Linked DNA regions of Homo sapiens. The protein of the gene in region 1 interacts with the protein of each later gene in a biochemical or structural test. Each region holds a gene or a part of one and is shown on either strand. Other genes may lie near its edges.

What was found.
Region 2: the proteins of DLG5 (region 1) and GJC1 interact in a test that uses a peptide from one of them, tested with the Homo sapiens proteins (one large-scale study listed by IntAct).
Region 3: the proteins of DLG5 (region 1) and ARHGEF7 interact in a test that uses a peptide from one of them, tested with the Homo sapiens proteins (one large-scale study listed by IntAct).
Region 4: the proteins of DLG5 (region 1) and GUCY1A2 interact in a test that uses a peptide from one of them, tested with the Homo sapiens proteins (one large-scale study listed by IntAct).
Region 5: the proteins of DLG5 (region 1) and FAT1 interact in a test that uses a peptide from one of them, tested with the Homo sapiens proteins (one large-scale study listed by IntAct).
Region 6: the proteins of DLG5 (region 1) and PTH1R interact in a test that uses a peptide from one of them, tested with the Homo sapiens proteins (one large-scale study listed by IntAct).
Region 7: the proteins of DLG5 (region 1) and ARHGEF26 interact in a test that uses a peptide from one of them, tested with the Homo sapiens proteins (one large-scale study listed by IntAct).

What each region holds. Positions count from the first base shown.
Region 1 is NC_000010.11:77,790,756-77,794,255, reverse strand, and holds the end of DLG5 (disks large homolog 5), read left to right. Parts: intron 1-138; coding exon 139-248; intron 249-1,712; coding exon 1,713-1,816; 3' UTR 1,817-3,465; downstream 3,466-3,500. UniProt on the Homo sapiens protein: Acts as a regulator of the Hippo signaling pathway.
Region 2 is NC_000017.11:44,823,788-44,827,287, reverse strand, and holds part of GJC1 (gap junction gamma-1 protein), read left to right. Parts: intron 1-3,500. UniProt on the Homo sapiens protein: One gap junction consists of a cluster of closely packed pairs of transmembrane channels, the connexons, through which materials of low MW diffuse from one cell to a neighboring cell.
Region 3 is NC_000013.11:111,282,810-111,286,309, forward strand, and holds part of ARHGEF7 (rho guanine nucleotide exchange factor 7), read left to right. Parts: intron 1-329; coding exon 330-554; coding exon of another isoform or gene 555-590; intron 591-1,595; exon of another isoform or gene 1,596-2,017; intron 2,018-3,337; coding exon 3,338-3,431; intron 3,432-3,500. UniProt on the Homo sapiens protein: Acts as a RAC1 guanine nucleotide exchange factor (GEF) and can induce membrane ruffling. Functions in cell migration, attachment and cell spreading. Promotes targeting of RAC1 to focal adhesions. May function as a positive regulator of apoptosis.
Region 4 is NC_000011.10:106,941,977-106,945,476, reverse strand, and holds part of GUCY1A2 (guanylate cyclase soluble subunit alpha-2), read left to right. Parts: intron 1-3,500. UniProt on the Homo sapiens protein: Has guanylyl cyclase on binding to the beta-1 subunit. Isoform 2 acts as a negative regulator of guanylyl cyclase activity as it forms non-functional heterodimers with the beta subunits.
Region 5 is NC_000004.12:186,717,357-186,720,856, reverse strand, and holds part of FAT1 (protocadherin Fat 1 isoform 1 precursor), read left to right. Parts: intron 1-3,500.
Region 6 is NC_000003.12:46,887,721-46,891,220, reverse strand, and holds part of PTH1R (parathyroid hormone/parathyroid hormone-related peptide receptor precursor), read right to left. Parts: intron 1-3,500.
Region 7 is NC_000003.12:154,253,890-154,257,389, forward strand, and holds part of ARHGEF26 (rho guanine nucleotide exchange factor 26), read left to right. Parts: exon of another isoform or gene 1-84; intron 85-830; coding exon 831-935; intron 936-1,441; coding exon 1,442-1,584; 3' UTR 1,585-3,500. UniProt on the Homo sapiens protein: Activates RhoG GTPase by promoting the exchange of GDP by GTP. Required for the formation of membrane ruffles during macropinocytosis. Required for the formation of cup-like structures during trans-endothelial migration of leukocytes.

The DNA.
Region 1 (3,500 bases):
CTTTATGTGGGGAGCACATGGGGCCTCCCTCCACAGCCTACCCCTGCCTTGATGGGGCCCCTGTTAGCCTGGACAGAGGAAGGAAAGAGGGCCTGGAGGAGGCTCAGTGCTCAGCCTGGTGTCTGGCTGTCCCCACAGGGAGCAGAGAGACCCCATCTACCTGAGGGACAAGGTGACTCAGAGGCATTCCAAAGAGCAGTTTGAGGCGGCGCAGAAGCTTGAGCAGGAGTACAGCAGGTACTTCACAGGTAGGTGTGCGTGGGCCTGGAGTGGGGAGCAGGCAGCAGGGAAGGAAGCAGAGGCTTCCTAAGGCTGTTTTCTTAGCCGTGGAGAAGCCCGCACTTTCTACATGCTCCCAAGTGCTGTCATGAGCACGTTCCTGACAAGTCAGGTGTTCAGATTGCAGTCCCTGGCCAACGTCAGGATTCTTACAGGTTGAATGTTAAGCTCACCGATCTTGGCCTCAGGTCCTGCCTGGCTTGCCTGCTCATTTTCACACGTGCAGTGGTGGGTCTGTCTCATAGCACAGGTGCAGTTTAGTGCAGCCACAGTGTCCCCAGGCAGGGCGGGGACTGGAGCAGCCCCCAGTGTGCCAGCAGTGTGGGCAGCGGAGGCTAGGGGCCCATCTGTCCCTAGCACCCTCCAGGGCAGTCCCGTTTTGCAGCGGGATTTGGCAAACCCCCCTCCAAAAAAAAAAAAACAAAAAACAAAACAAAAAAAAACAATGCTGTCCCCTTACCATCTCTGGTCTTCAAAGTGAAACAAACTCAGTGAAGTTTGGTTCTATTTTACCTTCTGGCCTTCAGCCTCTTTGGGAAAGTCTGTCATTTGCAGGGCATTAGCATTTGCAGTCACAGAGGATGGGACAGGGATTCTAACTGCATTGTGGAGAGTGTTATGATCTAGTCCAGGGACCTGGGCTTGGTGCCCATGTGTGTGTAGGTATGTGCAGGTGTGCATGCCTCTGTGTGTGTGTGTGTGTGGGTGTGTGTGTGAACTTTCATTTCCAATTCCTCACAGACTGGTATTTAGCCAAATACACTGACAATTCCTAGAGAGATGAAAATTTAAAACTCTAAGTCTTGCAAAAGGTAAGCTCTATTTTTTTCTTGTTAGATTCAACAGACATAAAATTACGACGTCCTGTTTCCATAGCAGTTTCTAGACACTCACTGTCAATTTCTGAGCATGCCTTGTTGCAGTAGGGGCTTGGTTTGTGTCCAGGTGCTGTTATGTGGAGCACACTGGAGTACCCCTGGCCTGGTGTCTATAGACCCCTTTGTCAAACTCCTATAGTACAGGGCTGGCCCAAGTTGGCGCCATCATCTTTCTGTGACTCTCCTCTTGGCCATGAGCTATCTGGCTCCTTAAACTTGTCGTTTCCTGCAGAATCCTGCTAATGATTAGACCACCGCCACATGTCCTCCAAACTTCCTTCTGATGCCCTGGGATTCCCCCAACCATTGCAAACCCAACCCAGGGTGTTAACTGCAGTGGGGTGGGCAGTTTACATATGAGTGATCAACTCAAGAGGGGCAATTTTCTTTCCCAGTTTCTTGCTGGTGAAGGAGAGTCAGGTGGGGATGGAGCAGAGTGCCAAGGAGCACAAAGCAGACAGCCACACAGTAGAAAGAGTGCAAGCTGTACTGCCTTGCCTCAAACCTGGGGTCTTACTCTGAGCTGAATGACGTGTCTGGGGGGCTCTTTTGCAGGGGTCATCCAGGGAGGAGCCCTGTCAAGCATTTGCACTCAGATCTTGGCAATGGTCAATCAAGAACAAAATAAAGTCCTGTGGATTCCAGCCTGCCCGCTCTAGGAGAATGCTGTGCTGTGGATGACTGCAGCTGGCCGCCTGAGGGGACACCAGACTCAGCTCTTTTCTAGCGACTGAAAGTAGAAGTCTGTCCGTCTATGAACATGCGGGGGAAGGATCCGGAACCAGGACCCAGAAGCACCTCCTTTGTAGACAGAGGGCCACGGCTGCGTGCGATCCAGGCCCAGGCCCACACACTCTGCCCGTGTCACACGTGTGCTTTAACACAAAACAGATAACACTAAAGACGGGTTCAGCACCCACCTTTCTTTAGCCAGCTGATCAGAGATGCTGCAAAGAGAACCTTTCGGATCACTCGTTTACAAGCCTTTTCTAAGTATTTGGTGGTTTATGTTTACTTGAACGGCTCCATGTTGCCGGTGCCCAGCCCCTGTCCCCTCTGTCAACCCCCTGTCGCTTTGGTGTTGGTTTCGTTCCCGTCTTCAGCAAAACGACCTTGGAACCTCAATGGGGGCTGCTTTGCTTTGGGAGGTTCTTGTTGGTGGGACCAGAGCTTTGACAAACCTCCTGCTCCTTGGTGGCACCTCTCCTGGAAGGACGTCACAACTCCAGGTGCTCAGACTGCCTGTGGCAGCAGAACCAGTGCCTTTGGCATTTTCCTCCCACAATGGGGAAGGTGACTTTGGCATTCTTACAAACTCGTCTCTCGGCCTTTCTCTCCTGCCTTCCACAGCCTCTCGTTTCTCCTCCATCTGTGCTTATTACTTGAGGACTGTGTCTGCTCCGTGAGAGCTGCGTGGGCAGGGCTGCAGTGGGGTCCAGGTGGTGTTCAGCTGTGCTGATGCCTGCCATTGGGTCCTCCTTAGGCTCTGTAAGTCGTGACAGCCTTCATCAGTGCAATGTTTGCAGGGTAATTCTTAAACTTTTTAGAGGGTGGCAGGTACATCAGTTCTTTTTGATATGAAAACATTCATGTTTCAGACATTGAATTGAGAGCTTTTAGGGGAAGCATAATGGTTATTGTCACTATCAACAGTCTAAAAAGAAAAACTGAGGTCTTTTTAATCTTGATTACAGCACTCACGGCATGCACCCTACTCAGTGTGGGTGTCTTCGTTTGGGGGCTTTTTTTTTTTTTGCACTTCTGAGGCTAGATATGTCTGGCTGAAGATTTGATGTGGTTCCTCCTTAAGCTATGCGTCCTGTTAATAATAGGTACTGTACTGGGCTCTGTGTAAGTGTCGTTGGGGTAGGACCTATATTTTAATACTGTTCCTAACATTTCATTTTACTAGCGAGAAATCTTTGATTTCATTTTATTCTTTGTAATTCTAGACACTAGATTGTAGTTTAGCCATAACTGATGTTTTTTAAAAAGGGATATATTTTCTTGCACAGTTGTTCAAAAAAGAGACAAGTTTCAGTCCTCAATGCTGTCCTTTGTTTTACAGGTACAAGTTTTCTAGCTCAGACAAACTATGAAAAACTGTAGACTATTCTCAAGGTATTAACTCGCAGACCCTCTGGGGGTAGGGGCTGTTTTCTAAGTTACAGGCAGAGTGGGACTGAGATGGTACAGTGTGCACAGACAGGTACTGAGCTGACAGACTGGGATTTTCTGTACTAAAATGTTACTTTGTATCAAAAGTTAAACAGGCTTTAGTACAACAAATAAAGGTCAATTTCTGTAAGGCTGTGTTTGAAGATGTGAGTTTTTAATCTCTTC
Region 2 (3,500 bases), on another chromosome or scaffold:
ATCTTGTCTCACTGCAACGGTGCTATCTTGTCTCACTGCAACCTCCGCCTCCCGAGTTCAAGTGATTCTCATGCCTCAGCCTCCCAAGTAGCTGGGATTACAGGAATGCCCCACCATGCCCAGCTAATTTTGTATTTTTTAGTAGAGACGGGGTTTCACCATGTTGGTCAGGCTGGTCTCCAACTCTTGACATTAGGTGATCCGCCTGCCTCTGCCTTCCAGAGTGCTGGGATTACAGGTGTGAGCCACCGCACTCGACCAGATTATTAGTTTTGTAAGACCGTTCCTTTGAGAATAGGTATGAGAAGATAGATTTTGGCTGATATCGTTAACCTGAAATTTAGACATAGAAAACAGTTCTGAGCTGTTAATATCAGCTGAATGGCAACAGTTGTTTTTCAACATACTGCTACAGCTGATGAGTTCAGTTTGTGTTGAAATAAGAACCTAGTAAAATGTATTTTTAAAAATATTTTTTAAGATTTAAATACAAATAATTTTAAATACAAAAAACTAGCTGGGCGTTTGAGCATTGCTATTTACTGCAACTCTAAAGAGTGAATGACCTGTTAGTCAGTACTGGCTGGCATACAGTTATACATTCTTGAATTTTACAAGTACTGTAGTTGGCTGAGAGCAGTCCTTGGCAATAAAGGTTTATCTTTCAGACCTGTGGAATATATTGCCCAAAGAGTTTTCCTAAAACAAGGATATGATGATCTCTTTGCAGATAGCATTTTACTTTTTTTTTTTTTTTTTAGACGGAGTCTCGCTCCATTGCCCAGGCTGGAGTGCAGTGGCGTGATCTCTGCTCACCACAAGCTCCACCTCCCGAGTTCATGCCATTCTCCTGCCTCAGCCTCCTGTGTAGCTGGGACTACAGGCGTCCACCACCATGCCCGGCTAATTTTTTGTATTTTTAGTAGAGACTGTTTCATCGTGTTAACCAGGATGGTCTCGATCTCCTGATCTCATGATCCGGCCACCTCGGCCTCCCAAAATGCTGGGGTTACAGTCGTGAGCCACCGTGCCCGGCCAGCATTTTACTTCTAAAGAAATGAAATGGGGCCAGGAGTGGTGGCTGATGCTTATAATCCCAGCACTTTGGGAGGCCAAGGCGGGTGGATCACCTGAGGTCAGGAGTTCAAGACCAGCCTAGCCAACATGGTGAAATCCCATTTCTACTAAAAGTACAAAAAATTACCTGGGCGTGGTGGCAGTCATCTGTAATCCCAGCTACTCGGGAGGCTGAGGCAGGCAAATGGCTTGAACCTGGGAGGTGGAGGTTGCAGTTAGCCGAGATCGCATCACTGCTCTCCAGCCTGGGCGACAGAGCGAGACTCTGTCTCAAAATAAAAAGAAAGAAATGAAGTATTCTGGTAAATGAATTCTTCTCCAGCTCTCAGTTGAAGCTTTGTTCTTTGAGGCTATAATGCTTGTAATACAAGCACAATTTGGACAAAAGCATTCTGGTGCCCATTAAGTCATTCAACTTTTTTTTTTTTTTTCTTTTGAGACTGAGTCTCACTCTTTCACCCAGGGTGGAGTGCAGTGGCACGATCTTGGCTCACTGCAACCTCCGTCTCCCAGGTTCAAGGAATTCTCTTGCCTCAGCCTTGCGAGAAGCTGGGATTATAGGTGTCCACCACCACGCCCAGCTAATTTTTGTATTTTTAGTAGAGAAAGGGTTTCACCATGTTGGCTAGGCTGGTCTCGAACTCCTGACCTCAGGTTGCCTCAGCCTCTCAAAGTGCTGGGATTACAGACGCGAACCACTGTGTCTGGCCCTTTTTATTTTTTTGAGACGGAGTTTTGCTCTTGTTGCCTAGGCTGGAGTGCAGTCGCGCAATCTCGGCTCACCGCAACCTCTGCCCCCTGGGCAAGATTCTCTTGCCTCAGCCTCCCAAGTAGCTGGGATTACAGGCATGCACCACCATGCCCAGCTAATTTTGTATTGGTAGAGACAGGGTTTCTCCATGTTGGTCAGGCTGGTCTCCTGACCTCAGGTGATCCACCTGCCTCGGTCTCCCAAAGTGCTGGGATTACAGGCATGAGCCACTGCGCCCAGCCTTTTTTTTTTTTTTTTTTTTTTTTTTTTTGTAATTGAGACAGAGTCTTGTTCTGTAGCCCAGGCTAAAGTGTAGTGGTGCTCTCAAGCGATCCTTCCACCACAGCATCCCTAGTAGCTGGGACCACAGGCCCACACCGCCACCACGCCCAGTTAATTTTAAAATTTTTTTTGGAAGAGACAGGGTCTTGTTTTGTTGCCCAGGCTGGTCTTGAACTCCTGGGCTCAAGCAGTCCTCTTGGCCTCTCAAATATGGGGATTACAGGCCAAGGCACCTGGATCCCAACGTTTTTTTTTTTTTTTTCTTCCCCAAAACATATAAGCACTTGATTAAAAAAAAAAAATAGTTGGACTCTTTCTTTCCCCCCCTTCTCACTATTGCACTTGACTAATTTTTTTTTTTTTTTTTTTAAGACAGTCTTGTTCTGTCATCCAGGCTGGAGTTGCAGTGGTGCGATCTCGGCTCGCTGCAACCTCTGCCTCCCAGGTTCAAGCAATTCTCCTGCCTCAGCCTCCCAAGTAATTGGGACTACTGGCGCATGCTGCCACGCCTGGCTAATTTGACTGATTTTATTTTATTTATTTTATTTTTGAGACAGAGCCTCACTGTGTCACCCAGTCTGGAGTGCAGTGGCACACATGTACTCCCAGCACTTTCGGAGGCTGAGGCTAGAGGATACCTTGAGCCCAGGAGTTTGAGACCACCCTGGGCAACATAGTGAGGGCCCTGTCTCTGCAAAAAGTAATTTGAAAATTAGCTGGATGTGGTGGCATACACCTGTGGTTTCAGCTACTCAGGAGGATGAGGCAGGAGGATTTTTTGAGCCCAGAAGTTGAAGGCTACAGTGAGTTGTGATCACACCATGCACTCCACCCTGGTCAACAGAGTGGGACAGTCTCTATTTGAAAAAAGAGGCCGGGTGCGGTGGCTCACACCTGTAATCCCAGCACTTTGGTAGGCCGAGGCAGGCAGGTCACAAGGTCAGGAGTTCGAGACCATCCTGGCCAACATGGTGAAACCCTATCTCTACTAAAATACAAAAAATTAGCCGGGCATGGTGGCGCGCGCCTGTAATCCCAACTACTCTGGAGGCTGAGGCAGGGGAATCGCTTGAACCCGGGAGGTGGAGGTTGCAGTGAGCTGAGATTGTGCCGCTGCACTCCAGCCTGGCAACAGAGCAAGACTCCATCTCAAAAAACGAAAAGAGGGCCAGGCACAGTGACTCACGCCTTGTAATCCCATCACTTTGGGAGGCCGAGGTGGGCAGGTCATGAGATCAGGAGATCGAGACCATCCTGGCTAACACCGTGAAACCCCGTCTCTACTAAAAATACAAAAAATTAGCCAGGTGTGGTGGCACACGCCAGTAGTCCCAGCTACTTAGGAGGCTGCGGCAGGAGAATCGCTTGAACCTGGGAGGCAGAGGTTGCA
Region 3 (3,500 bases), on another chromosome or scaffold:
TGAAGTACCTTTTTTCTATAAATGTTACTCCGTAGCTAATAAATGTGGCTAGTGGATGTCTTTTGAGTGCTGGGGCCCCAGCTAGAGCTGCCCCTCCTGTCTGGGGCAGACGCCGTGAGGAGCCCCACGCTCGGCCCAGGTGGCGCGAGCTAGTGTTTGGCCCCAAAAACTGACTGCTGAGAGCCAGAGATACGAATGAAATGATAAATCCTGAGGTTTATTTCACATGGAGTGTTTAAAGAGCAGAAGGAAGTGCGTGATAAGTGCCCTTTCGCGGTGAGCACGCGAGTCTCATGTTCTCTGCCCTTCCCGCTCTGTGCCCTTGGCAGCTCCCCTCCCACCCGGTCACTCCGTCCAGCAAGCACGCAGACAGCAAGCCCGCGCCGCTGACGCCCGCCTACCACACGCTGCCCCACCCCTCCCACCACGGCACCCCGCACACCACCATCAACTGGGGACCCCTGGAGCCTCCGAAAACACCCAAGCCCTGGAGCCTGAGCTGCCTGCGGCCCGCGCCTCCCCTCCGGCCCTCAGCTGCTCTCTGCTACAAGGAGGTGAGGTCCCTTGACCACTCAAACAGCCAGATGACGGTGAGCATGCCTCGGGCCCTGGGTGTGCCCACGTGCTGGGCCTTCTGTGTACAGCAAAATGCACCCTAACTCCTAGAGAACTGAGAAGGGGGGGTCTGCCTTGGTTCTCTGGTTATCTGCTCTGCTGCTGAGAGGCCCGTGGTAACCTGTGTGGGAAGGCGATGTGCAGGGTCCCCCTCCTTTCTGCCATGCACAGGGGGGCCTTTACTGCACTTGCCGGAGGAGTGTGCCGCCAGGGGCCAGGAGCTGGAAAGGCGCTGAGCCCAGGTGGCTTTCACTCCCTGTGTGTGAGGCCATCGCTCAGCATCTGCACGCTGTCTGCTGCGTCTAACGACCCCTCCTCTAGGTTGGGGATCCTGTCCAGGAGCCCTGCATTTTGTCATCCAGAAGCCATTTGAGATGAAGAGAACATTTACTAATACAAATGAAAAACAATCACTTAGGCGGTTTCCCCCTTTGATGCATAAGAAATCATGATGCGGTCTTTGCTTGTCTCTGTTCTCATCCGGCATTTTTATATTTGCTAGGCGCAAATAAAGTACGATTCCAATGAATAAATAGAAGTGTTAACACTTCCTTACACTTTTACCTAAACCAGCTTGGATGAGGAAAGGAAGTGTCTTTAGAAATCTGTTCTGAGAAGTACTTTCACCTGAGGAAGCTGATAATTGAGATGAGAGTTGTTTTCATAAGCAGTTGAGCGTGCATGGTGGTGAGGTATGAGGAGTGGCGGTGAGAGTGTGGGTATCGTGCGCGTCAGTGTGAGCAGCAGTGCCCGTTGGTGGGGTGTGAGTGAGCGTGAGGATGGTGACACGCTCTTGCCTGGCATTGTGCCTCTGTGTCTGGTCAAGGCCACATTTGCCAAGGGAACTGGAGCAGACTTTTTCTACATTCTTGCCGGCAGCCCTGGGGGTTTTAAGGCCCACAGGAAAGTACTGTATGAGAAATTAGGATCTGTGCTTTTCATTTTTTGTTCTGAGTCTTTGTTTTTATGATATCTTTCAGGTAATCATGTGTGCAAGTCAGAATTTCCATTTTCTATCATGGGAAGTTACTTGAAGAATGTTGCTGTTCCTTATTGTATACTTTAGTGTGCACAGTCTAAAGAAAAAGTGAGCTACTACAAGAACTGGTGGAGACTGAATTACTAGGGAAGAAAATTGGGATAAAACTGTTGGGCAAAGAAGTAGAAAGGGCAACGGAAGGGGTATTGAAGTGAAGATAAACAATTTTTTTTGATAAGTCTGGCTGCATTTGCTTTGCCAACTCCACACTGGGAGAGAAGGGCTCACACCGAGCAGCTGCCGTCCAGTGTTGCTGAGCACCGCCCAGCAGTAGCGTGGAGAGTGATCTTGCAGGGTGTGAGAAGAGGACATGGAGGCTCGTGGAGGCCGCTCTGCAGCCCGCTCTGCCTGGCTCTGGCTCAGGTGTGCTGTGTGCTCTGTGACCCTCTGCGCCTGCAGGTGCCCTCGGAGCACGTGAGGGGCGGGCGTTGGCTCTTCAAGGCTCTCCATCTCAATTTGCTTCGAATTAGGGAAGCCATGAGCACATGTGTATAAATGTGTCTTCTGGAACAGATTGCTGCTGCATTTCTAAGAGCTTTCCAATTTTTTATAGAAATACTTTTGTTTAACTTTTTGAAGGCTATTTTAGATTCAGAGTTTGTTACGTGGCTGTATTGGGTGATGCTGGGGTTTGGGCTTCTGGGGTACCTATTACCCAAATAGGAAACATTGTACCCAATGGGTAGCTTTTCAAAACTCACCCCCATCACCTTCCGCCTTTTGGAGTCCCCAGGGTCTGTCATTTCCATGGTCATGTCCATGTGTACCCATTGTTTAGCTCCCAAGAAAAGACTTTTAAAGATAATTTTAAAAACCAAGCTTTGTTTCCTCTGTTTCCAGCCTGGTTCATTCCATAGCACATCTCATCTTCTGAGTCTTGGTCTCGCGTTTAGCATTCGTGATGGTTTATGTCGTTGGGGTGATGCAGAAACCAGCCTTTTTTTGATATCGGTATTTAACACGTGCTTGACAGTTGACACCTTACCTGCTCTGTTGGGACTTGCTTTGCTCACTTTGTTTTTTGCCGTCGTCTTCTGTGCTTGTTTGAAAAGCTGTTTGAAGAGGTAAGGGGTGGGCCATTCCGTTGTGAACACTCTGAGCTGGTGTGCATGTGGCCCCTGCACAGCAGCCCTGGCCGAGCTTGGCTGTGCTCCTGGCACTCAGAGTCAGGTAGCTGAGCACTCGCTCCCTTTTCTTCTCCCTGAAACTTCAAATATTTTCTTAAAGCAATTATTTTTTACTTATCTGTCATTTAATGACAACCTTAGTTTCCTCCTCTCTTTCCAGTTAGCTGTGCCAGGGGATAGGTCTGTCCTAGGGAGCAGCTGCCCCCTCCTCTCCTCCTCCCTCAGGAGCGTGCAGGATGTCTGTGCACACCAGCGCCAGCCTGCCTCCTGGTGACACCTCTCATCACAGGACTAACAGGACCCAAATGACACGAGGGGTTTTATTAGAATTAAAAAAAAAAAATTAGCCAATGACTAATACTGAAAATGCCCTATTGATTTTTAAAAATTAACGTTCAGAAGCTGGTAAAGAAAAATCAAAGTAGGAAAAGGCGAGAAGCTCTTATCAGTGGCTATAATAATTTGGGGTTTTATACCTTTACAGCAGCCTTTCTGATATGCCAGTGAAAATGATTGGCTTTAGAGTATGTTAGCATTTTCTTTTGTCTTTCCCTAGGATCTTAGTAAGAGCCCTAAGACCATGAAAAAGCTGCTGCCCAAGCGCAAACCTGAACGGAAGCCTTCAGATGAGGAGTTCGCGTCCCGGAAAAGTGAGTACCTGCGGTCCGTGTGGTGGAGGACGTGGCCTCCTGGTCACGTAGGCCATGGCTTTCCTGGGA
Region 4 (3,500 bases), on another chromosome or scaffold:
CTTCTTCTCTTAACCAGACTCCTCTACTTCTTCATTCTGAGTGATTTCTTGATCGATTAATGTGTTTTTTTGTTTTGTTTTTTTTGTTTTTGTTTTTTTTCATTTTCTAAGGTGTTTCACTGAGTGATGGAATCTCTGAATCTTTGCCAGATACTCTTCTGGGTGATAAACTTTTAGGTTTCAGTTCTCTCAGTATCTCACCTGTATTTTTCTCTCATCATCTAGCTTTCATTGTTGCAGATGAAAAGTAAATTTTTTTTAATTACCTGTTTTCTCTTGCAACTTAAAAGATCTTCTTTATCTCTCTCTCTCTTTTTTTTTTTTCAGGAATCCAACCAGATATTCTTAGGGGTGTGTGTGTGTGTCTGTGTTTCTTATCATTCCTGGTTGCAATTTATGCTTTTTCCATCTGTAGATGTAGGATTTTCCATGGTTCAGGGGAAATTCTCTCTGTAATTCATTTAGTTATAGTCCTTCTTCCATTGGTTTCTTTTTTCTCATTCTACATTATAGTGTTTTTAGAGGTTGTTCCTCTAAATATGTTTATGGAAAATAGAAGGATCACAGAAAAAATACTACAAGGGACTATCTGCTATTTTATAAGAAAGACACGGACATGTGCTTTGTGATTTGAAAGGAAGGAGTAACACTGATAGTTTTGTAGTGTATGTTTATGATACTGCACTTGTTAGATGTGGTTACTAGGTGAAAAAATTCGTTTCAGAGTACTCACATGGGGGTTGGCTTCATCTTCATTATACCACATTTCTCATTGTTAAAATTTATTTCTGATGTATGTTTTAAAACATAAATTCACAGATTAAAAAATTTTATTTTAAATTCAGGGGTACATGTGCAGGTTTGTTATATAGGTAACCTTGTGTCATGGGGGTTTGGTGTTCAGATTATTTCGCCACTCAGATATTAAACCTGGTACCGTTCAGTTATTTTTTGTGATCTTCTTTCTCCTCCCAAAGATGGCTCCCCAGTGAATGCTTCCTGACATTTACACTCTTCTACAGTAATTTTCAGTACAAGGTCTCACTCTGTCACTCAGGCTGGAGTACAGTGGTGCAGTCACAGCTCACTGCAGCCTAGACTTGCTTGGGCTCAGGTGATTCTCCCACCTCAGCCTCCAGAGTAGCTGGGACTGCGGGCCTGCACCACTATGCCTGGCTCTTTTTTTGTATTTTTAGTAAAGACAGGGTTTAGGCATGTTGCCCAGGCTGGGACCACCTGCTTTTTTTTTTTTTTTTTTTTTGGAGACAGGGTCTCACTCTGTTGCCCAGGCTGGAGTGCAGTGGTATGATCACGGGTCACTGCTACCTCAACATCCTGGGCTCCAGTGATTCTCCCACCTCAGCCTCCCGAGTAGCTGGGACTACGGACTACAGGCATGTACCACCATGCCCTGCTAATTTTTGTACTTTTTTCTAGATATGGGGTTTCACCATGTTGGGCAGGCTGGGTCTTGAACTTCTGGACTCAAGCAATCAGCCTGCTTTGGCCTCCCAAAGTGCTAGGTTTACAGGCATGACCCACTGTGCCCAGCCTAACCTGTTTTTTTATTTAAGTCTCCCTTCAAACATTGTCTCTCTGAGGAGAGGCAGATACTGTTTTTCTTCTACTTCCGTGGGTACTCCTGTGTACCCCTGTTGTAGCCCAACCATAATGTAATTTACTGTTTTGTAGGGGCCCATGAGAGAAAGTCATGTGTCTTTTTGTTTTCATATCCTTAGATGTGGCACAAGTGCAACCTTAAAAGGTTAGTAATATTCACCAAACAAATACTTAGATGAATGCTTAATTTCTATGAAACAATGCTTATTCTCCAGGTGTCAGGCATTATGCCAGTGATAGATACGCAGACATAAATAGGGCAAGGTCCTTGTCCTCAAGAAATGCCATCTGAGGTGGGGTGGGATAGCAGATGAGAGACAACAGGGCCAGATCATGAAGGAACAGATCGTATTTCATTTACAGCTAAAGGATGCCAGCATTTATGCTATTCACCTTTTTAAAGAGGTGAATTAACAGTAGTTAAAAATTCTAACTTAACTTACCCATTAATAAGAGCAGCTTTGTTATAAATTTTGCCACTTGAGGAAATGTATTCTTATAGACCCAGATGTCAAGCTGTCATAGAATCTTGTGATGTGAGGAGATTAGCATTGTCTATATGTTTCAAATGATTTACTGTAAGTAGGGGGTTTGCGTCAATCGTAGGCGGAACTTTGGGAGTCAGAATTGCATCAGTTGTCTGAATTGAATTACTTTGTCTGTGCTTTCTGAATTTTGAGATTAAAGTTTAAAATCAAAGTCTTGGCTATTGACTTGTATATTTGTAAAAGTTGAAGTAATCTTTTCTTAGTTTTAATATTTTCAAATCTAATAACTTTTTTCTTTTCTGATCTTGTGCAGTTTAACAGTTCTGGGAATAAAAATCTTTATTAGTTAATTGAATATTATGGGTTTATATAGAATTGCCATTCATAATATTTTAATGTAATATTCAAAAAAATTCATTTTTTTTTAGTAATACAACCGTCACTTTAGCATCTGGTATTCCTTAGCATCATCATTTGAAAATTAACAATATTGTACCTTAAAGTACAGAGGTCCTTTATAAAGCAGCAGGCTTTCTAGTTGATAGATTGCTGCGCATAGAGTAGTTTTTAGTTTGTTGCCTATGGTGAACTTCTTATTTTCTGGATGATTCTTTGGGATCCTGGCATTAGGCACAGAACATAAGCTTACACTGTATTGTCTTTACATTTGTGTGCACCATAACTGTGAGGACCTTTTCAATGTTATGAAAAATGCAAGTTAGAAGAACTTCTCTTTTTCTCTTCAATGCACATGGACCTGAAGTCTTTTGAAAATACAGTTCTTCAAAGTTTAGAAGCAATCCATGGAATATTTTCAGTGACACACGGAATATTGTAGTTCAGCATATATGGTCAGTTTATAGGAATTTTTATTTATTCTGTATTTAGTTTTTAATAAGAATTTCATAACTGGAAGATTTCATAGCAACAAAGGACTGTCATTGAATGTGTATATAAATTTAACTTGTATCTTAGAGTTTTCTAGTTATAACATAGTGATGGTGATGTAAGGATTTGGCATAGAAAGAAGTTTTAGTGAAGGAAGTGAGAATTAATGTTCATGCAGAGTAATCAAACCAGGAGAGTATGGTTTGATAAGCCAAAAGAGATGAGAGTTTTAGGAGGAAGGGATGATTAATAGTGTCAAATTAAAGGAAAAACAGCAAACAAGGTTAAGTAAGATAAGGACAAAACAGTATGTATTGATTTAAGTATTTATGAAAGCAGTTTCAACAGAGCAGTTGGAACAGGAGACTAATGGCAGTGAATATTGTCTGTCTTTGTTTTCTCTTCTACACTAGAGAACTGGACAGATAAGTACTATTATTGTCTATTCTGGCTGACATTATTGTTAGTGAATGCAACACATGTTGAAGAGCAGTCTTGTAACCT
Region 5 (3,500 bases), on another chromosome or scaffold:
CTATATCCCCTCCCCAACACAGTCCTGCCTCACATTTCTCACTCTTAACGCTTTATTCATCTGTCCATTTACCAATCCAACAATAGTGGACCTCCTCTGTGTCAAACATTGGGCCAGACACAACATCTAGTGCTGAACAAATCGTGTTTCCTGCCCTCAAGCAGCTCGTAGTCTGATAAGGGAGAGGACAAGTACACAGTCTCTTATAGACCAGTGTGATAAGAGATCCATTCAGGTCAAGGTGGTCCATAGCAGCACCTCAGTGAGCTGGGGGATCTGGGGCAGGTGGATTTAGGATAATGTGAGTTCTGAGGGAAGTGTGAATCAGAGGGGAACAATTCAAGCAGAGGAAATGATGTGTGCAAAGCAAGTTATAGAAAGCATAGTGTGGCTTGTGGTGTGATGAGTGGAGAGAAATTCTGAAGACCTCACCGTACCATGTTATCTTAGGAAAAGGATTGGCTTCTTTTTTTTGTCTAGGTAGAACATAGAGAATCTTGACTATGACTTAAATAATCTTATTAAAAAAGGGAGGATTGTTTTTATGAGGCAGAGGTTAAGGAGAGAGAAAAAGAAAGAAACGTTGAAGAGAAAGGTGAAAACAAATAAGCTGTATGTGAGGAGTGGAGGGCAGGAAACAAAGAAAATAGTAATGTTTGCATTATCTTTCGGAAGGGAAGAGGTCAAGATGTTACATTACTTTAGAGCCTTCACCACTAGGTGGTGTTATTGGCTCAAGACAGCTTGGTTACTGAACTTGTTGCAAGTCTGGGAAGTATGCCTTTTTGTTTTGAAATAAGAAGTAGTGTTGGGAAATTAGGAAATTAGTTAGAGGTTAGATTATCAAAGGTCTTTAATGCAAGGTTAAGAATCATATACTTAGCAGGCTAAGGGGAAATACTGAATATTTTCAAGCTAAAGAATAATATCACAAAGAAGTTTGAATAGGTTGACTGGGATTGGGGGCAGAAAGCAGGAATACCAAAAGACTGTAGGAATACTCTGCATGAACAAAATACCCATTCTAACTAGGTGGTAGCAGCAGAAATGCAAAGGGAACCATTTTGAGAAATTGAGAAAGAAATGTCAAGTTTGGATAACTTTTGAGAAATGAAGGTTTGAGAGCCAGGAGGCTGTAAAGATTTTAGTCCATCCTTCAATTTCTCGAATACATAGAGTCGAAAGGATTAAGCAAGTTCCTTGAATTCACACAGTTGATTAGTGACAAAGCTGGAGCTAGGTTCCACATTTGATGTTCTCCCAACCCCTTCCTTTTTGTTTGATTTGTTAGTTTGCAAACTTGGTTGATTTGGGAAGTGGTGAGATTGGAAAATAACTGGAAGAGCTGTTATTTTGCAATGGCGAAAGGGTGAAAAGTCTATATAGTTGTCCCTTGGTCTCTAAGGGAGGTTTGGGATTTTATACCCAAATCTGAGAATGCTCAAGTCCCTGATATAAAATGGGGTACTATTTATATTTTTACTGTTTTATTGTTTATTTTAAAGACGTTCTCAACCTGAGGTTGGTTGGATCCATGGATGCAGAACTCTTATATAGTGAAGGCCAATCGTATAACTTAGGTTTGATGGTATTTTAGGAGGAATGTTACGAGGTGTTTGAGAGAGGTTAGAGCTGAAATTGCAGATTTGGTGCACTGATCCTTCATGATTTGAGGCAGAGTAGATGAGATCTTTAAGGGTGGTAATAAATGCATGTGGAGGAAGAGTTGGAAGACAAGTTTGTAATGCCAGAGTTGTAGGTGAGTCAGTGTAGAGTATAAAAGAGTATGGAAGAGAATCAGGAGAATGTTGTCATTCATTTTTCATACCTGTGGATTGCCTCTTTGTTTTGGGGGACTCTGTGACCGAATGAAGGATCAGGAGTGTTGGGGAGGGGAGTGAGTGGTGTCAAAGGTGTCATGAAATCAAGGAGGATGAGCACTGAGAAAAGGTCATTGGTTTGACATTAGCTTGTGATGCGGGAACGGCTGTTCTGCCAGGGTGGACCTGCAGGATCTCTGTGGAGCAGCGTTTGGCGGAGAGGGAGTTCTAAGGAAGCCAGGGCGGTGCTGTGAAACTCCTTTTCTTGCGATCTTTGCCAGTATAAAAAAAGAGAAGAATAAGAGTGTTTGTTTGAAAGAAGCAAAGGTTTGAATGAAGTTTATTTTATTTTATTTTATTTTATTTTTTTGAGACGGAGTCTGGCTCTGTCGCCCAGGCTGGAGTGCAGTGGCGCAATCTCGGCTCACTGCAAGCTCCGCCTCCCGGGTTCAAGCGATTCTCCTGCTTCAGCCTCCTGAGTAGCTGGGACTACAGGTGCATGCCACCACGCCCGGCTAATTTTTGTATTTTTAGTAGAGACGGGGTTTCACCATGTTGGCCAGGATGGTCTCAATCTCTTGACCTCATGATCTGCCCACCTCAGCCTCCCAAAGTACTGGGATTACAGGCATGAGCCACCGTGTCTGGCCAAGCTTATTTTTTAAGTAGGAGAAGAACCTGTGTGTGTGTATGGATTCTGCACAAGGTGTCAGGAGTGGGAGGAGCTGTAGAAGAGGCAGGATTTTGTGGTATCAGAGTATCTTTATTTGCAGCTAGGGTGGGTGGCATCTCTTCTGAGGTGTAAGAAGAGAGAACAGGTGAAGAGAACATTTTAAGAGGAGGAGGGAAGATGGACTTTTCTCCCTGAAGATTTCCGTTTTCTTGCTGTACATGGAACATTCACTTTCCTGGTCTGTCATTTAGTGAAGGGTTGACCGAATCTAATTATACAGGGAGCCCAATTCAACGTATAAAATAAAGTCTTACTTACCAACTTGGGAGTGGAAGAAGTGGCCATTGTTGATTATTGGCTACTCTGCCAAGATGTCATTTAAATTACTTCTGTTTGTGGAGAAAAATACATTAGATGAGATGATCTCCATTCACAAGAGGTCAACAGTCCATTGAGCTTCTCCTTGGGCAAAGTTTGTCCTGGAATGTGGATGAGGAGAAAGTGGTTGGAGGATAAGGAATATATAGAGAGGGGAAAGAAGAGAATAGCACAGGAATGCCTCACCCTGCCAGAAATAGACACACAGCCGCTGCCTACCTGTCCTGTCTTGTCGTTCCCAGGAGCACAGAACAACTAGAACCCGTCATCTTCGTAATGCCAACAGACATGTTTTATAGGTTCATGTAGATAACTAGGTTTTATATAGAGGCTGTTTGAAAAATAGGACATCTGTTTATCTTTCTTAAGGGCAGGAACACTTCAGGAATCTATTTTGGATTGATTAAATCATGTACATGGTGAAGTTTTCTGAAAAAGCCAGATTGTAGTTCCACACTGTCATTGTCAGTAAAGACCATTCTCAGGGTTAAATTGGAACCGGTGGTTGATCATGTGAAGGCAATATTTAAAGTATGTCTTGCTAGAGTTACCAGATTATTGCAGCCCCAGTCAAAGATAACAACATATAAATGGAGTTAGCAGAAGTGATTAAATGACATATACCAAGC
Region 6 (3,500 bases), on another chromosome or scaffold:
GAGAGGGAAAGATATGTGCTTCCAGCACGCATGACTCCCACACTCCTTCATTCATCCATAGGGGTGGTGGCCCCACCTCTGGCCTCCCTGAACTTTAGGACCTATTTATCTGTTAGCACAGCCATTGCAACAAGAATAACTCATGTTAAAGTTAAGGAAGCACTTTCCCAAGAAGAGGAGGACAACCCCACACCAAGTGCGCTACCCCTCCAAACGTTAGCTCACAGCTCCGTGCCTGGAATGCCCCCACTCCTGTTCACTCCTCCCTCCAGCTGTGCCCTCCTCTTCAAGGAGATTCTGCCACCAGCCCCACAATGTGAATCCCACCTCCACCCTTGACTAGCTTCGTGTCTGAGAAAGTTGCTTAACCCGTGTGCCTCAGTTTTCCTGTAAAATCAGGGTAATAATAGGGCTGTTGTTGGCCCGGCACGGTGGCTAACACCAGTAATCCCAGCACTTTGGGAGGCCAAACCAGGTGGATCACCTGAGGTCAGGAGTTCGAGACCAGCCTGACCAACATGGAGAAACCTTGTCTCTACTGAAAAATACAAAATTAGCTGGGTGTGGTGGTGCGCCTGTAATCCCAGCTACTCGGGAGGCCGAGGCAGCAGAATCGCTCAAACCTGGGAGCGGAGGTTCCAGTGAGCCGAGATCGCGCCATTGCACTCTAGCCTGGGCAACAAGAGCGAAACTCCATCTCAAAAAAAAAAAAAAAAAAAAAAAAGCTGCTGTGAAGATTAAATGAAGTACTTCACAACAAGCCTGTGCAGGGGTGAAGCTCAGGAAAAGCTGGTTGCTATTGTTGATACTGTGAGCAGCAGCAGCAGCAGCAAGTCACATCCCCGCCATGTGCACCCCTGCTGCCTGGTGACATGGGTGCTCCCAGCCAGGCCAGGGACCCAAGGTGGCTGGGGGAGATTATCTGGGTAGATGGCTGAGTCCAGCAGGTGACAGTGAGGGGCAGATGGGAGATGGGGCCCCAGGGTGGACTGGGGGCAGGGACTACAGGAGGACCTGCTAGATAAGGTGTTCCTGGCAAGCTTTTGGGATGGAAGAGTATCCCAATGGCTCCTTGCATTTCTGGATCCACTCTGGACTTACATTAGGATTCAAGGTTACTGCCAGAGGCCCCAAGCTTGAGCTTAGGAGGAAAAAGGACCCCCTCCTCTGCCTCTGCCCTGACTGAGGAGGCCTTATCTCCTGGGGATGAAGGGGAAATGCTGACAGCTGTATCTCTTCTCAGCCTGGCATGCCCCCTGTCTGCTACTCCCTTCTCCCCGCCCCTCCAACCCTCTCTCCCTTGAGGAGTTCCTGTCTTCTTGGCTCAGCGCCAGGGTGCAGAGGACTCAGGCTTGCGTCCCCTTAGATCCAGCGGATCTGCAGATCTTGGGTCTCAGGGGTGAGGACTGAGGGACTGGGGCTGGGCTGTGGCCAGGGGTCACTTAGTCCATACCCACCACTTACAGGCCACCCAGCCCTGCACCAGCTGTCCCATATCCCCCCAACACTCCTCCTATGGTCCTGATTAGGGCTGACTTGACTCCCCCAACCCAGCCATCATGGTGCTTGGCTTCAATACCCTCCACTGTAGCACATCCTCCCCATGGTCAGCAAGGAGCTTTAAAACCCATGCCTCCTGCACCTTCTACCACATCCCCATTTTACAGACAGGGACACTGAGGCCAAGAGTCACAGAAAGAGGAGGGCCAGGGATGGAGCTAAGATCTGCTTGACACTGAAGCAGCAGCCTTGGAAGAAGGGAAAGAGAGGAGGAAGTGCCCAGCCACACGGGTACCCTGGCACCAGCCACGGTATCATCTTTCCATAATCCTGGATTTTAGCTGCTACATTAAGCAAGTCTCCCTTTGCAGATCCCCTAAGGCAGCCTCCCCGAAGCCGATTTAGGAGCAGAGGTGTGTAGACATAAAGGTGCCGGTGATGCCAGTGATGGCGGCTTGTCCCCAGCTGTAACTGGGTAGAGGACAGTTGGGCTCTGGTGTTGGGAACCAGGCCGTTGATGCCTCCAGCACAGCCAGAAGGAGAAAACCCTGGCTAACAGGAGACCCCTTCATGACCTCCTGGCCTTCCTACAGCCCTCCTCCAGGTTCTACTACTGGGACCCATGCTGGCACCCCTGGATGTCTCCCGTGCCAGCTGGCTGGGACTGCTCCCCCACCCCTGCTGCCCTCTCTCTGTCCGGCTGGCCTGAGCAGGCTCCTCGTCCTGCCCCGCCACCGCTGACAAGTGCTGACTTTTCCTCCCCTTCGCCAGGCTTTCCTGAACAGGCTGCCTGTGTTTGGGGCTGGGAGGGGCTGGGGGGGAAGAGGCACTGTGACGCCTCTCATCCTGGCCAGCCAGCGTGGCCGCCTTCGGGGCAGGCAGTGGGATGCAGCCTGGGATAGCGGAGTTGGCTGCTACGACCTGGTGGATCTTCATAAGCAGGCCCTACTTGGGTTGAGGAATCAAGGCCCAGAAGAACAGTATGGCCTAATCTAAGCCATCGCCTGCTCAGCAGAATGGGATCCCACTAGGTCTCACCTCGGGCATAAGACTGGCCCCAGAGTTGGGGCTTTTAAGGGTTTGAAGGTCTCTGATGTTTCTGCAAACCTGAGCAAAAGTTTGCGCCCTTCTCCCAATCACACCGTATTTTGCAGACAATTTCAGAGGTCTGCAAAACCCTCGCCCCACCTTTTCTTTTTCCTGAGGACTCTCCTTCTGAAATAGCTGCCTTCCTGATGTGGTGGCTGGACCAGGGAGTGTCCCCAGAAGGCCCACAACAGGAATCTGAGGGAGGCTACTTGACGCCTCATTAAAACATTCCGAAGAAAACCCCAGTTCCTCGGAGGGCTCGGCACCCTCCTGCTGCTCTGTCCATAAGCCGTTTCAAGAGCTGAGGTGAATGTGTTTAAGAGCAGGTGATATAAAAAGCTTCAACAAATCAATACGAAAAAGACAAATAACCCATAGAATGATGGTTAATGGCCCCGAGCAAGCTCTCACTGTAAAGCCCAGAAGTCACTGGTAATCAGCAAATTAAAATGACAAGAGACACCATTTTCACCTATCCAAGCAAAGGTGAAACACAAAGAATCCTCTTAACATCCTATGAGACAGTGGGTGTGGGCAGAGAGGCCCTCCTGGTTGGTCTTGGTGTTGTATAAGTACAAAGCAGCACAAGCTTTTTAGAGGGCAATTTGGCCATGCTATTAAAATAAAAAATATGTATATTCTCAGGCCCAGCAATGACAAAATCTAGAAATATCCTACTAGGAAATAGTCACATGGGGACACTAGAGGGCATTTCAAGGAGCTTCCCTGCCACCATCTGGAATCACGCACATATAGACACACACACAAATTATGCAGAAATGATCTAAATGTACATTCCTATGGACTACTTAATGAGTCCCAGGTTTTGGAATACTATGCAGCATTTAAAAATATAGATTCATATTTACTGAAATGAAGATCTCTAAGACACACATTTACGTCAAAATATG
Region 7 (3,500 bases), on another chromosome or scaffold:
GAAATCAAGCTTTGTATTAAAAAGCAAATTAAGAAGTCACATGTCAGCATTTTGTTTGTTTGTTTTGAGATGGAGTCTCGCTCTGGTGCTATCTCAGCTCACTGCAAGCTCCGTCTCCTGGGTTCATACCATTCTCCTGCCTCAGCCTCCCAAGTAGCTGAGACTACAGGCGCCCGCCACCATGCCCAGCTAATTTTTTGTATTTTTAGTAGAGACGGGGTTTCACCGTGTTAGCCAGGATGGTCCCAATCTCCTGACCTCGTGATCCGCCTGCCTCGGCCTCCCAAAGTGCTGGGATTACAGGCGTGAGCCACCGTGCCCGGCCACATGTCAGCATTTCTGAGGAGGTCTAACATGACTTCTCAGCTTTTGGTTGGAGCTCATTTTATTTCTAAACTTTTTTTTGGAAACTTTCATGTGCTGCTGTTGGGATGGGGAGACACTCTGATGAGAGCCAGGAGAACTGTGTCTGTTGCAGATTTTGCATGGCCTTGGCACATCAGCAACTCTTTCATGTCTCAGTTTCCCTAATGCAGAGTGGCTGTTTTCTGTTCCATTGTGTGACATGACTAATGACTCCTGATCAACCTGTTATTGAGGGGAATCATGCATCATAAAAGGCCTCTCAAATCTGAGCTTCTAAAATTCTAAAGCTTATAGCCAAGCAAGGGAGTTGCTAGAAAAGATGTTCTGCTTTTTATTAGAAGCCCAACTTGTTTCTCTCAATGCTGGCCCTGAATTGCAGAGAAAAATAAGTAAGTGTACATTATTGGATTGCACATGTTTTTTCTCTGCTACTGGAAACTTAGTATGTCCTCTTTTGGCCTCAGCACTGACCCAGGTGGAAATCGTTAGGTCATTTACTGCTAAGCAGCCAGATGAACTCTCCCTGCAGGTGGCTGACGTCGTCCTCATCTATCAACGTGTCAGCGATGGTGAGTGGGAGCGTTCTTATGGGACACTCGTGGTCCAGGATGCAGAGTGCTATAGACCCGAGGAGTGTCATTTTGTCATCATTGCCCATATTCCAAATCTTGACATGTTAATGTTTGAGATCACATATATGTACTGTCTTCTCATCTCTAAGGCTAAACCATGACGTTTTCTTTTTTCCCCAGTCCCTCAGTGACCCAGTTCTTATCTCTAAATATTCGTCCTTTCAAAAATAGCATTCTTCCTGCTATCCTTTACCCAAAGCATCTCCTTTCCCAGCTCAGCCCAGGTTCAAATACTCTCAGCCTTCTCACTTCAGGGCCTCTGCTCACGTTCTTTCCCTGCCATGTCATTCATTCCCCCTCGAAAGCTTTCCCTGTCCCACTTTCTCTTCTCACCGTAGCACTTAGCCTGGGGAGGGATGCTGCCTCTCAGCTTTTTCATATCCTTGGAGCCTGGCACACTCCAAATACTTGTTGTTTGGTGTGGACTCTGTTCTTTTTCACAGGCTGGTATGAGGGGGAACGACTACGAGATGGAGAAAGAGGCTGGTTTCCTATGGAATGTGCCAAGGAGATAACATGTCAAGCTACAATTGATAAGAATGTGGAGAGAATGGGACGCTTGCTAGGACTGGAGACCAACGTGTAGTCTCTCAGATGGTCTTTTGTTACTGCAAGATTTGCACGACACTTACCGGGCTGGTTGGTTCTGGGCTAGTTTTATTGTTAATTTTGTCACAGCCTATTTAATTAAAAGAACGAAAACACTTGCCTTTAAGCTTGCCAGGTTGTTCTGCTCTCTCATGAGAAGAGCTTGGATACAGTGAGTTTGCACAGCTCAGTTTTTACCTAACCACACACTTGCAGACCTCCTGAGGTACACAGAATAGCTGAGCAGTTCACTTCAGGGATCAGGTCATCTCTGCTCCTCCTAGTTTCACCATGTTCTGGCAATAAAAAACACATATTATATCCTGGTTTTCTCTATCCTTGCATTACTAAGGTGACTGTCTCTCTTTATACATCCTTGTATGGTTCTCCCAGTATTAGCAAGATTGTATATCTGTAAAGAATGTCCAGTTTTGTAAATATTTCCCTGCCTTTTTTTTTCTTTTTTTACATCTGATTTTAATGCTTCGTTAACTTCAAAAGGAACTGGTAGAGTTCAGAAGGTGAGCTGTTGTTTTTCTAAACCTCTTCCCAGGAAGGGGACATTGACACTTGAATTTTTGTCACCTTTTTCCTCATTAGAAGGAAAGTAGAAAGCCTTACTTTAGGATTTTTAAAAAAAAATCCATCTCACCCCATATTGTTCTTAAATAAGTATAGACTAATTAACCTAAGCTACCTTTAACAACGTAGAATTTAGATGGGTTCATATATGTGAGAAAAACCTGAATATAGGACAGGGGTCCTACTTTTTTCCCCACCTCTGTCGCCCAGGCTAGAGTATAGTGGTGTGATCTTGGCCCACTGCAACCTCTGCTTCCTAGGTTCAAGTGATTCTCCTGCCTCAGCCTCCCAAGTAGCTGGGATTGTAAGAGTATGCCACCACGCCCAGCTACTTTTTGTATTTTTAGTAGAGACAGGGTTTCATCATGTTGGCCAGGATGGTCTCTTAACTCCTGCCCTCAAGTGATCCACCAGAGAGGAGATCCTCGGCCTCCCCAAGTGCTGGGATTATAGGCATGAGCCACCGTGCCCAGCCTACTTTCTAATTAATTAAAAAAAAAAAAAAAAAAAAAAAAAAACCTTCCCAAATGAGCTGATAAAAAACTGACGTGAGGCTGCTTTGCCTTCAATAATACCTAGTTTTCAGCTGTTCCAACTCGTTTCCAAATAGAAATTAGCTGGAACACACTACAGTAATCTCAAGGAAGGGAAAATTAGGCCTTAAAAGATACCAAGAAGTCAGCATGGTACCCAATTGAAACCTTTTGACCTTAGTGGGAATTCATTCTATTTGCACTAAAAGCCTTAACTTGCTGTATTCAGAGTCCCTCTTAACTGTGAGTTTCTATAGAACTTTACTTTTTCCACTAGTGCACAGAGAGAGAAAGGTTATCTTAATAGTCGGTTTCATGGAGATGAAGGATGGGAGATTAAGAGGGGGGAAATGATTTTTACTGGCAGCTATATTCCCTCTCTGTTCTATTTGCTTTAACAAAGGGATAAAACCTGGCAAAGTGTACATTATTGGAGGACTCAAATCTGTATGTGACATGTCCCAACTACTGTCCGCTAACTAGTTATCCAAATTGTAAAGCTACAGAAGCCCAGTTGAGGGGTAAGTGTGCCTGGCTCACACAGCCTGCACCCTGTCACCTCGGCAATGAGCCAGTGTGGGGCACTGGGGACTTCTAACCCTTGGATTGCTCTTTTTGACCTGTGCATACCTTCTAATTGTAAAATATATTTCAGACCGTGAGTACCTTGAGATCTGAGCAACTGTGTTAATGAAGTAATAGCAATGGTCCACAGTGAAAGATGTGTTGGGGTTTGCAAAACAAGCATTCCGTCACCTCTTTAATAATGTCACAGACTTTTTAAAAGAGAGGCTATCAA